Linked DNA regions of Homo sapiens: region 1 is linked to region 2. Evidence: fine-mapped expression QTL. A gene starts in region 2. The other region holds a variant in brackets. All regions are shown on one strand. Distances are between the middles of the regions.

The links. PIP is the estimated chance that this variant, and not a neighbour inherited with it, causes the effect.
Region 1: its variant is the best candidate, but not a certain one, in a credible set for the expression of ZNHIT1 in whole blood (TOPMed, PIP 0.88).

The regions. Positions count from the first base shown.
Region 1 is chr7:101,276,225-101,280,605 of GRCh38, reverse strand. No RefSeq gene overlaps it. Among named protein-coding and RNA genes, the nearest start is that of LNCPRESS1, 21 kb to the left of the region's middle. The variant G/A (reference allele first, on the strand shown) is at 2,210.
Region 2 is chr7:101,216,152-101,220,530 of GRCh38, reverse strand. ZNHIT1 (zinc finger HIT-type containing 1) reads right to left here and starts at 2,366. Exons shown (of 5, transcript NM_006349.3): 1 at 2,314-2,366. The coding sequence starts at 2,335. It overlaps PLOD3 (procollagen-lysine,2-oxoglutarate 5-dioxygenase 3), which reads left to right and starts at 2,950. Exons shown (of 19, transcript NM_001084.5): 1 at 2,950-3,365; 2 at 3,745-3,836; 3 at 3,985-4,121; 4 at 4,205-4,368. The coding sequence starts at 3,257. RefSeq lists enhancers at 2,019-2,560, 2,654-2,773, 3,322-3,844 and silencers at 2,874-3,153, 3,294-3,343, 3,404-3,523.

The sequences.
Region 1 (4,381 bases), 60 kb before region 2:
GGAAACATAGTAAGACCCCCATCTCTACAAAAAACAAAGATTAGCCAGGTGTGGTGGTGCATGCCTGTAATCCCAGCTGCTCGGGAAGCTGAGGCAGGAGGATAGCTTGAACCCAGAAGGTTGAAGCTGCAGTGAGCCGTGATCACGCCAGTGCACTCCAGCCTGGGTGACAGAGTGAGACCCTGTCTCTAAAAAATTAAAAAAAAAAAAGAGGCCAGGCACAGTGGCTCATGCCTGTAATCCCAGCACTTTGGGAGGCCGAAGCGGGTGGATCATGAGGGTCAGGAGTTTGAGACCAGCCTGGACAATATGGTGAAACCCGTCTCTACTAAAAATACAAAAATTAGCCAGGCTTGGTGGCACACACCTGTAAGCCAAGCTACTTGGGAGGCTGAGGCAGGAGAATCCTTCAACCCAGGAGGCGGAGGTTGCAGTGAGCCAAGATCACGCCACTGCACTCCAGCCTGGGTGACAGAGCAAGACTCCATCTCAGAAAAAAATAAAAATTAAAAATAAATAAATAAATAAGAGAAATGGGATTTGGAGTGAGGCCAACCCAGTCTCAGTACCGACTCTACCACTTACCAGCTGTACATGTGCCTTATTTTCTCCATTTGCAAAGTGCAGAAAACAGGACCAAGCTTGCAGGGTTGCTGTGAGACATCGCCTGCCAGCCTGACACGTGGTAGGCAGTCATTAGATCAGGGTCTTCCTCCCTCTTTCCCAGAGCCCCCACCTAAGCTCCCTCCCCTCTGGAACCTTGGGACACACACACACCTGTAATCTGAAATAGCAGCTGCTACTTCCCTGACCCTCCTCTGACCCCCAAGGTTGCCCTGTCCTCTATCCCCCCACAGAGTAGTGCCAGGCACAGAACAGATGCTCCAAAGATATGAAAAGAATGAAGGAATGAACGAAGCAGCCACCACCACAGTTTCTCATGGGGCGTGTTCCCCAGAGGCCACGAGCCTCTTTTTTTTTTTTTTTGAGACAGATTCTCACTCTGTCACCCAGGCTGGAGTGCAGTGGTGTGATCTCGGCTCACTGCAACCTCCGCCTCTGCCTCCTGGGTTCAAGTGATTCTCCTGCTTCAGCCTCCCAAGTATCTGGGACTACAGGCACACACCACCATGCATGGCTAATTTTTGTATTTTTAGTAGAGACGGGGTTTCAACATGTTGGCCAGGCTGGTCTGGAACACCTGGCCTCAGGTGATCTGCCCGCCTCAGCCTCCCAAAATGCTGGATTACAGGCGTGAGCCACGGCGCCTGGCCTGGGCCTGGATTCTTGTACATGGCATTAGGGCACCCCTGTGAGTTGCCCCAAGGATCACATGTGCACGACTGTGTCATCTGAGCAAACTCCCCCAAAGGGTGTCTGCATTCCCCACAGCCATTGCTGGTGCTAACAGGACAAGTTCCAAAAAAGAAAAGCTTTTAAAAATGTTTTATTGATTTATGTTTGATTTTTGGTAGAGATGGGGTCTTGCTATGTTGCCCAGGCTTGTCTTGAACTCCTGGCCTCAAGTGATTCCCCTGCCCCGCCGCACCTCAGCCTCCCAAAGTTCTGGGATTACAGGTGCGAGCCACAGTGCCCAGCCTGAAATCACTTTCTAAATTTGCCCTTTTCATCATGTTTTCCTCTTGTAACCGTTTTATGTCACGTGTACCCTGAGGCCCCCTGACAGCCCCCCTTGGGTCCCCTCTGCAGCCTCTTGTGTTATATGTGATCGGAGCACCCCCAGAGCTTCGTCATCCGTGACGAGCACCCGCCCTCTCTCCAGTGGGAATCATCAGCTGATGAATAAGGGCTGATTTCTTCTCAAATGATCACCACCCCCAATTCATTACATTCCAAAGACTGAGCTCAGAATGGCTTATCTGATGCTTGGTGCGGTTGTGCTTTTTTGGAACGCCGTTCATTGAGGACGCAGGTTCTCTCCCGTGTGATGCTCTTGGGCGCAAGCTGTGACGTGGGTTCCACGCTATTCTGTGCCACGTCCTCCCCTGTGATTTTCGCATCTCCGATAACTGCTTGCCTCCGTCTGAGGATTTTCCTCCGCTGGTGCCATTCATTGGGAGTCTCTCTAGTATGAATTATGAGATGAATGGAAATTTTCCCTCATTCATAATATTCAAAGCTTTCCTCTGCCCTGTGAATTCTTTGATATTCTTCCAGAATCCTGACCAAATATTTTGCCATGTGTATC[G/A]GGCCAGTAGAGTTTAGGCTTAGAGTCTGCAATTTCCCCAAAGTGGTAACTTTCTTTTTTTTTAAGAGATGGGGTCTTGCTCTGTTGCCCAGGCTGGAATGCAGTGGCATGATTATAATTCACTGCAGCCTTGACCTCCTGGGCTCAAGTGATCCTCCCATCTCAGCTTCCTGAGTAGCTGGGACTACAGGCACACATCACCATACCTGGCTAATTTTTTTTTTTTTTTGAGACGGAGTCTTGCTCTGTCTCCCAGGCTGGAGTGCAGTGGCATGAACTCGGCTCACTACAACCTCCACCTCCCGGGTTCAAGCGATTCTCCTCCTGCCTCAGCCTCCCAAGTAGCTGGGACTACAGGTGCGTACCACTATGCCCAGGTAATTTTTTGTATGTTTAGTAGAGATGGGGTTTCACCATGTTAGCCAGGATGGTCTCGATCTCCTGACCTCAAGATCCGCCCGCCTTGGCCTCCCAAAATGCTGGGATTACAGGTGTCAGCCACCGCGCCCGGCCCCATTGAGGAATTTTAAAATTCCATTTGCTGGAAGAACCAGCCCGTTTTCTGTCTGTTACATGGCTATCTTGAAATAGTCCTGCCTGGAATTGCTTGAACCTGGGAGATGGAGGTTGCAGTGAGCTGAGATCGTGCCACTGCACTCCAGCCTGGGTGATAGAGCGAGACTCCGTCTCAAAAAAAAAAAAAAAAGAAAGAAAGGAAAAAGAATAAGAAAGAAATAGTCCTACCTCCACAGTCCCTTCTTCAGCCTGTCAAAGCCAAAAAGTTTCCCAAGATCCTAAGTCTAGTAGGCAAGAAACACTTCCAATCCCTATTAAAGCCATGTTCATGAGGGAACTCAAGTTTTCTACCCACAGGCACTGGAATTTCTGCTGTGGGAACTGGGGGACGTTCTCGAGCCATGGAAGCCTTGAGGCCGTTCGGACTCAAGAATGTGATGATGCCCTCAGTTTCGTGAGTCTTGTATTCTGGTTTATTTCTGCTCCACTATGTCTGAGGCCTCCTGTTCTCGCAGCAGCTATTGGGGCTGAAATGTCCAAAGTGGCTTTTGCAGTCACGTGACTGGTGCCTCATGTTCTTCCACTTGGTCTCTCTTCCCGACAGAGCAGCCTTGTTGTCTAGTACAGTTATTGGGCTCTGAGAACCCTCTATGGATGCCCTAGGCCATTGCACCATCACCTGTGCTACCCCTGGCCCCTCCATGGAAACCGCTGCCCAGGCAGCTGTGTGACACCATGTGACCCTGCCTCTCTTCCACCCACCAAGTCCCCAAATATACAGTTCACTGGACCAGGATCCCATATAGGCTGGCCAATGATTTTTGAAGTCATCTGGCTCAAAAATTTAGGGAAGTCACCCAGGCCAGCCAATTCCCTTTTGGAAACTGGGGCGGAAAAAGCAGACAGTAGAATTAGTAAGCCACAAGATGTCCTGAGGGCAAGTAGGGCCTGGTCGGACCAGTGTGCTGGCCGAAATTACACTGGAGAAGAAACTTGGCCGTTGAAGCAAAACCAAAATCAGCTATACCATGGAGAAAATCCCCTCATTGTGGAGGGAAAATGAGCTTGGCTTTGGCAAGAGGATAAAGGAGGAGAGGGTGACAACAGAGTTGGGACTCCACAAAAGGCCGAGACAAGCCAACCCTGGGCTGCCTTCTGCCTGTGGGTGTCACTGCTGCCAGTTTGCCGCTCGTTCCCTTGGCTGTCAGTTGGCTTAAAAGTGGGCAGATGACTTAGCTGTGCTGGTGAAACATATGGGGATTCCCGGCCCATGCAGCATGCCGTCCCACTTGCCAGGAGAGGTGGCTCACGCCTGTAATCCCAGCACTTTGGGAGGCCGAGGTGGGCGGATCACCTGAGGCCGGGAGTTCGAGATCAGCCTGGCTAACATGGTGAAACCCCGTCTCTACTAAATATACAAAATTAGCAGGGCATGGTGGCACATGACTGTAATCCCAGCTACTCAGGAGGATGAGGCTGGAGAATCACTTGAACCTCGGAGGCGGAGGTGCAGTGAGCCGGGATGGCGCCACTGCACTCTAGCCTGAGTGACAGAGTAACACTCCGTCTCCAAAAAACAAAAACAAACAAAAAAACAACAAAAATTAGCTGGGCGCAGTGGCAGGTGCCTGTAATCCCAGCTACTTGGGTGGCTGA
Region 2 (4,379 bases):
CCCCAATTTACCAACATTCAGAGATTAAGAAATGTGTCCAAAGTTCACATAGCTAACAAGTGGCCAGGTCAGGAGTCAAAGAACTACCCAGCATCAAAAAGCATGACCTTGCCAGGCGCAGTGGCTCATGCCTGTTATCTCAGCACTTTGGGAGGCCAAGGTGGGTGGATTGTTTGAGCGCGGGAGTTCGAGGCCAGCCTGGGCAACATGGCAAAACCATGTTTCTACAAAAAAAATACAAAAATTAGCCAGGTGTAGTGGGACACACCTGTAGTCCCAGCTATTCAGGAGGCTGAGGCGCAAGGATTGCTTGAGCCCAGGAGCTCAAGGCTGCAGTGAGCTGTGTTTGTGCCACTGCACTCCAGCCTGGGTGACAGAGCAAGACCCTGTTTCAAAAAAAAAAAAAAAAAAAAAAAAACCCAAAACCAACCAAACAAAAAAAAATATGATTATGATCACTGTACTACTCTGTCTCCCCTCCAAATGCCAGGCAGTGCTCTAGGTTTTAGGGATGCCAAAGCTTACAGTCCAGTGGCAAACACAAATGATTAATGAAACAAACACAGTAAGTACAGCATGGAGTAGGCTAGGATACGGAAGTATAAAGTGCTGCAGAGCCCAGGACAGAAACACCCAACCTGGCCTTGGAGTAGTCAGGGAAGACTTCCCAGAAGAAGGTAAGTCTAGGTTAAGGCCTAACTGGTGAATGACCTGGCTAGGGGAGACAGCGGGGTATTTCAGACCTTGAGGCCAACATGAAAAAACTGATGGCTGGGAGACTGCGATGCCTTTGAAAAACTGAGAGGGCCAAGCGCAGTGGCTCATGCCTGTAATTCTAGCATTTTGGGGGGCCGAGGCGGGTGGATCACGAGGTCAGGAGATCAAGACCATCCTGGCTAACATGGTGAAACCCTGTCTCTACTAAAAATACAAAAGATAAGCTGGGTGTGGTGGCGGGCGCCTGTAGTCCCAGCTACTCCAGAAGCTGAGGCCAGAGAATGGTGTGAACCCGGGAGGCAGAGCTTGCAGTGAACCGAGATTGCGCCACTGCACTCCAGCCTGGGGGACAGAGCAAGACTCCGTCTCAAAAAGAAAAAAAAAGAAAGAAAGAAAAACTAAAAGGGCCAAGCGCAGTGGCTCATACTTGTAATCCTAGCATTTTGGAAGGCCGAGGCAGGAGGATCACATGAGCTCAGGAGTTCAAGACCAGCCTGGGCAACATAGTGAGACACCCATCTCAACAAAAAATATAAAAACTAGCCCAGCATGGTGGCCTGCACCCACCTGTAGTTCCACCTACTCAGGTGGCTGAGGTGGAAGAATCACTTGAGCATGGGAGGTTGAGGCTGCAGTGAGTTATATAGAACCACTGCATTCCAGCCTGGGTGACAGAGCAAGACTCTGTCTAAAAAAAAAAAGTCTTTGCTGGCTCTCCAGTGTTTCCCTACAGAGTTCAAACTCCTGGGCAGTGTGTATAATGCCTTTCAAAATGTAACCTTTCCCCAGCCTTCGATCCTTTCTTATTACTCTGTAAGATCCAAACTGTGAACTTGGCTTCCTAAGCGACTTGCTTTTTCTTGCTTCACTGCCTTTGCACGTGAGGTTCCCACTGAGAGAAACCCTAACTAGACTTTCAAGACTCAATTCAAGCTTTTTCATTTTTCCTTCAAGCTTTCACAGTCCCCTGCCTCCCAGAACCTGGGCTAGATGCCACGTCTCCCTGTTCCCAGGCGCTGTGCTTCCCTCTGCCATAGCACAAATCACAAATCACAGTAAAATACAGTGTTAGGTCTGCGTTTCTGCCCCCCTTCCAGAAAAAGCCAATGCTTGGATAAGAGGGGTCTTTCTCCTCTTCATCCCCAGCGCCCGGCTTGGAGCAGGCACCAATAAAACGTGAATGAAGGGTCAACGCCAGGACCCGAGGGCTGAGGAAGGGATTTACGAGGAATAGCTGGGGCCGGGCGCGGCAGCTCACGCCTGTAATCCCAGCACTTTGGAAGGCCCACGCAGGAGGATCGCTTTGAGGCCAAGAGTTGGAGACCAACCTGGGCAACATAGCGAGAGCCCGTCACCACATAACAAATTAAAAATTAACCAGGCGTGGGGCCTCATGCTTGCAGTTCCAGCCACTCCGGAGGCTGAGGTGGGAGGATGGTTTGATCCCAGGAAATCGAGGCTGCAGTGAGCTATGACTATGCCACTGCACTCCAGCCTAGGCGAAAGAGCGAGACCAAAAAAGAGGAATGACTAGGTAAGAAAATTCTAGGACTGACTTGGGAAGGGGAAGGGGGCGAACCGCGGGGGCTCACATACCCGAAGTTTTCTTCTCCACCATTGGCACAACACAACTGTCGGAAGAAACTGCTGCGCACGCGTACTAACCCCAAGGCTTTAGTAGGGGCGCCATCACTTCCGGTAGCTTGTACTTCTGCGCGTGCGCCACAGCTTTGACTCATTACGTGGCGTTTCCTTGGAGACAAGAAAGCTTTTCGCCATGTTTTATAGGGGCAAAACCACTTCCGGCCTCAGTGTGGAGGTGTAAATCTTGTGGGAGCCACGAAATGGGTCATTTTAAAGATGTGGTCACGGTGTTCTTACAAGAAATCTTATTTTCCTTTGGTCCTTGTGAAGATGCTGTGATCACAAAGGCAGCCCCTGGAGCTTCTCCGGGCAGAAGAGGAGGTGGGCTGGACTGTCAAAGAAAGTGGCTGGCTTCCGTGGGCAATCCGAGGTTCCTAGTGGCCCTCTGCAGAAAGCTGAACTCCCAGTTCCCCCAGGCCTCCGTCCCGCGGCGGACTCCTAGGCTTCCTCCCTCCCTGTCGCCGCCAGCCTCTCGCTCTCCCCGTCTTCCGCCCGCACTCTCTGGGCAGGGCTGCGGCCAGGACCCGCCCCCGCGTCCCGCCCGACCCTCCGCCAGGGGTCACTTCCCCTGTCCAGGTTTCAGCTTCCACATGTGTCAAGCGGCTGGCTCAGCCCAGAGTCCCTGTCTCCCGCCCGCCGGCCCGAGCCGCCGCCCCTCCCCCGCCTCCCGTGCGCCCGGGACAATCCTCGCCTTGTCTGTGGCGCCGGCATCTGGAGCTTTCTGTAGCCTCCGGATACGCCTTTTTTTCAGGGCGTAGCCCCAGCCAAGCTGCTCCCCGCGGCGGCCGCACAGCAGCCCGAGCGCCCCCTTTCCAGAGCTCCCCTCCGGAGCTGGGATCCAGGCGCGTAGCGGAGATCCCAGGATCCTGGGTGCTGTCTGGGCCCGCTCCCCACCATGACCTCCTCGGGGCCTGGACCCCGGTTCCTGCTGCTGCTGCCGCTGCTGCTGCCCCCTGCGGCCTCAGCCTCCGACCGGCCCCGGGGCCGAGACCCGGTCAACCCAGGTGAGATCCCGGGGAGGCCCGGCACGGCCGAGGGGGCAGAGGCTGGCGTGCCTGCCAGCCTGGCCCGGAGAGGGTCGGAGGCTCGAGGAGGTGTCTGGCCCGTCCCCCGCCCAGCGTGCTCTTGAGGCTGAGTCGCGCCAAGCCCCTCGCCCATCACTACCCTGAACTGGGGTTTCCAGCCTCCCTATGCAAAGGGACTCGGAATTCCTGGGCACCACTCCCACCCTGCCCTCCTTGGGGTCAGAGTGTTCCTGGGTGAGAAGAGTTTAAGAATGGGAAGGAAGAAAGGGAGGGAAGTCGAGTGAGAGGGAGGACAGCAAAGCACGTGAGGCCCGGAGCTGGGCGGTGGATCTCAAGTGCCATTTCCCTCTGGTAACAGAGAAGCTGCTGGTGATCACTGTGGCCACAGCTGAAACCGAGGGGTACCTGCGTTTCCTGCGCTCTGCGGAGTTCTTCAACTACACTGTGCGGGTGAGGAGAGGGAAAGGCCCCTGGGAGGGGGTCCCAGCAGGAGGGGTGGGCTGAAGTCTGGATGCCCAGGTCCCCACGGTAAGCCTGGTCAGGAGTTCCCCCCACAACTCCCCACCCCTTGCCTGGCACGGGGCAATCTTCTCCACAGACCCTGGGCCTGGGAGAGGAGTGGCGAGGGGGTGATGTGGCTCGAACAGTTGGTGGAGGACAGAAGGTCCGGTGGTTAAAGAAGGAAATGGAGAAATACGCTGACCGGGAGGATATGATCATCATGTTTGTGGATAGGTAACGGGGCTGGGGATAGGGAGCGGGGTAAGGATGCTGAGGTTCCCAGTGGACCCCTGCCCATCCTCCCCTTCCTCACCCAGCTACGACGTGATTCTGGCCGGCAGCCCCACAGAGCTGCTGAAGAAGTTCGTCCAGAGTGGCAGCCGCCTGCTCTTCTCTGCAGAGAGCTTCTGCTGGCCCGAGTGGGGGCTGGCGGAGCAGTACCCTGAGGTGGGCACGGGGAAGCGCTTCCTCAATTCTGGTGGTGAGTGGCAG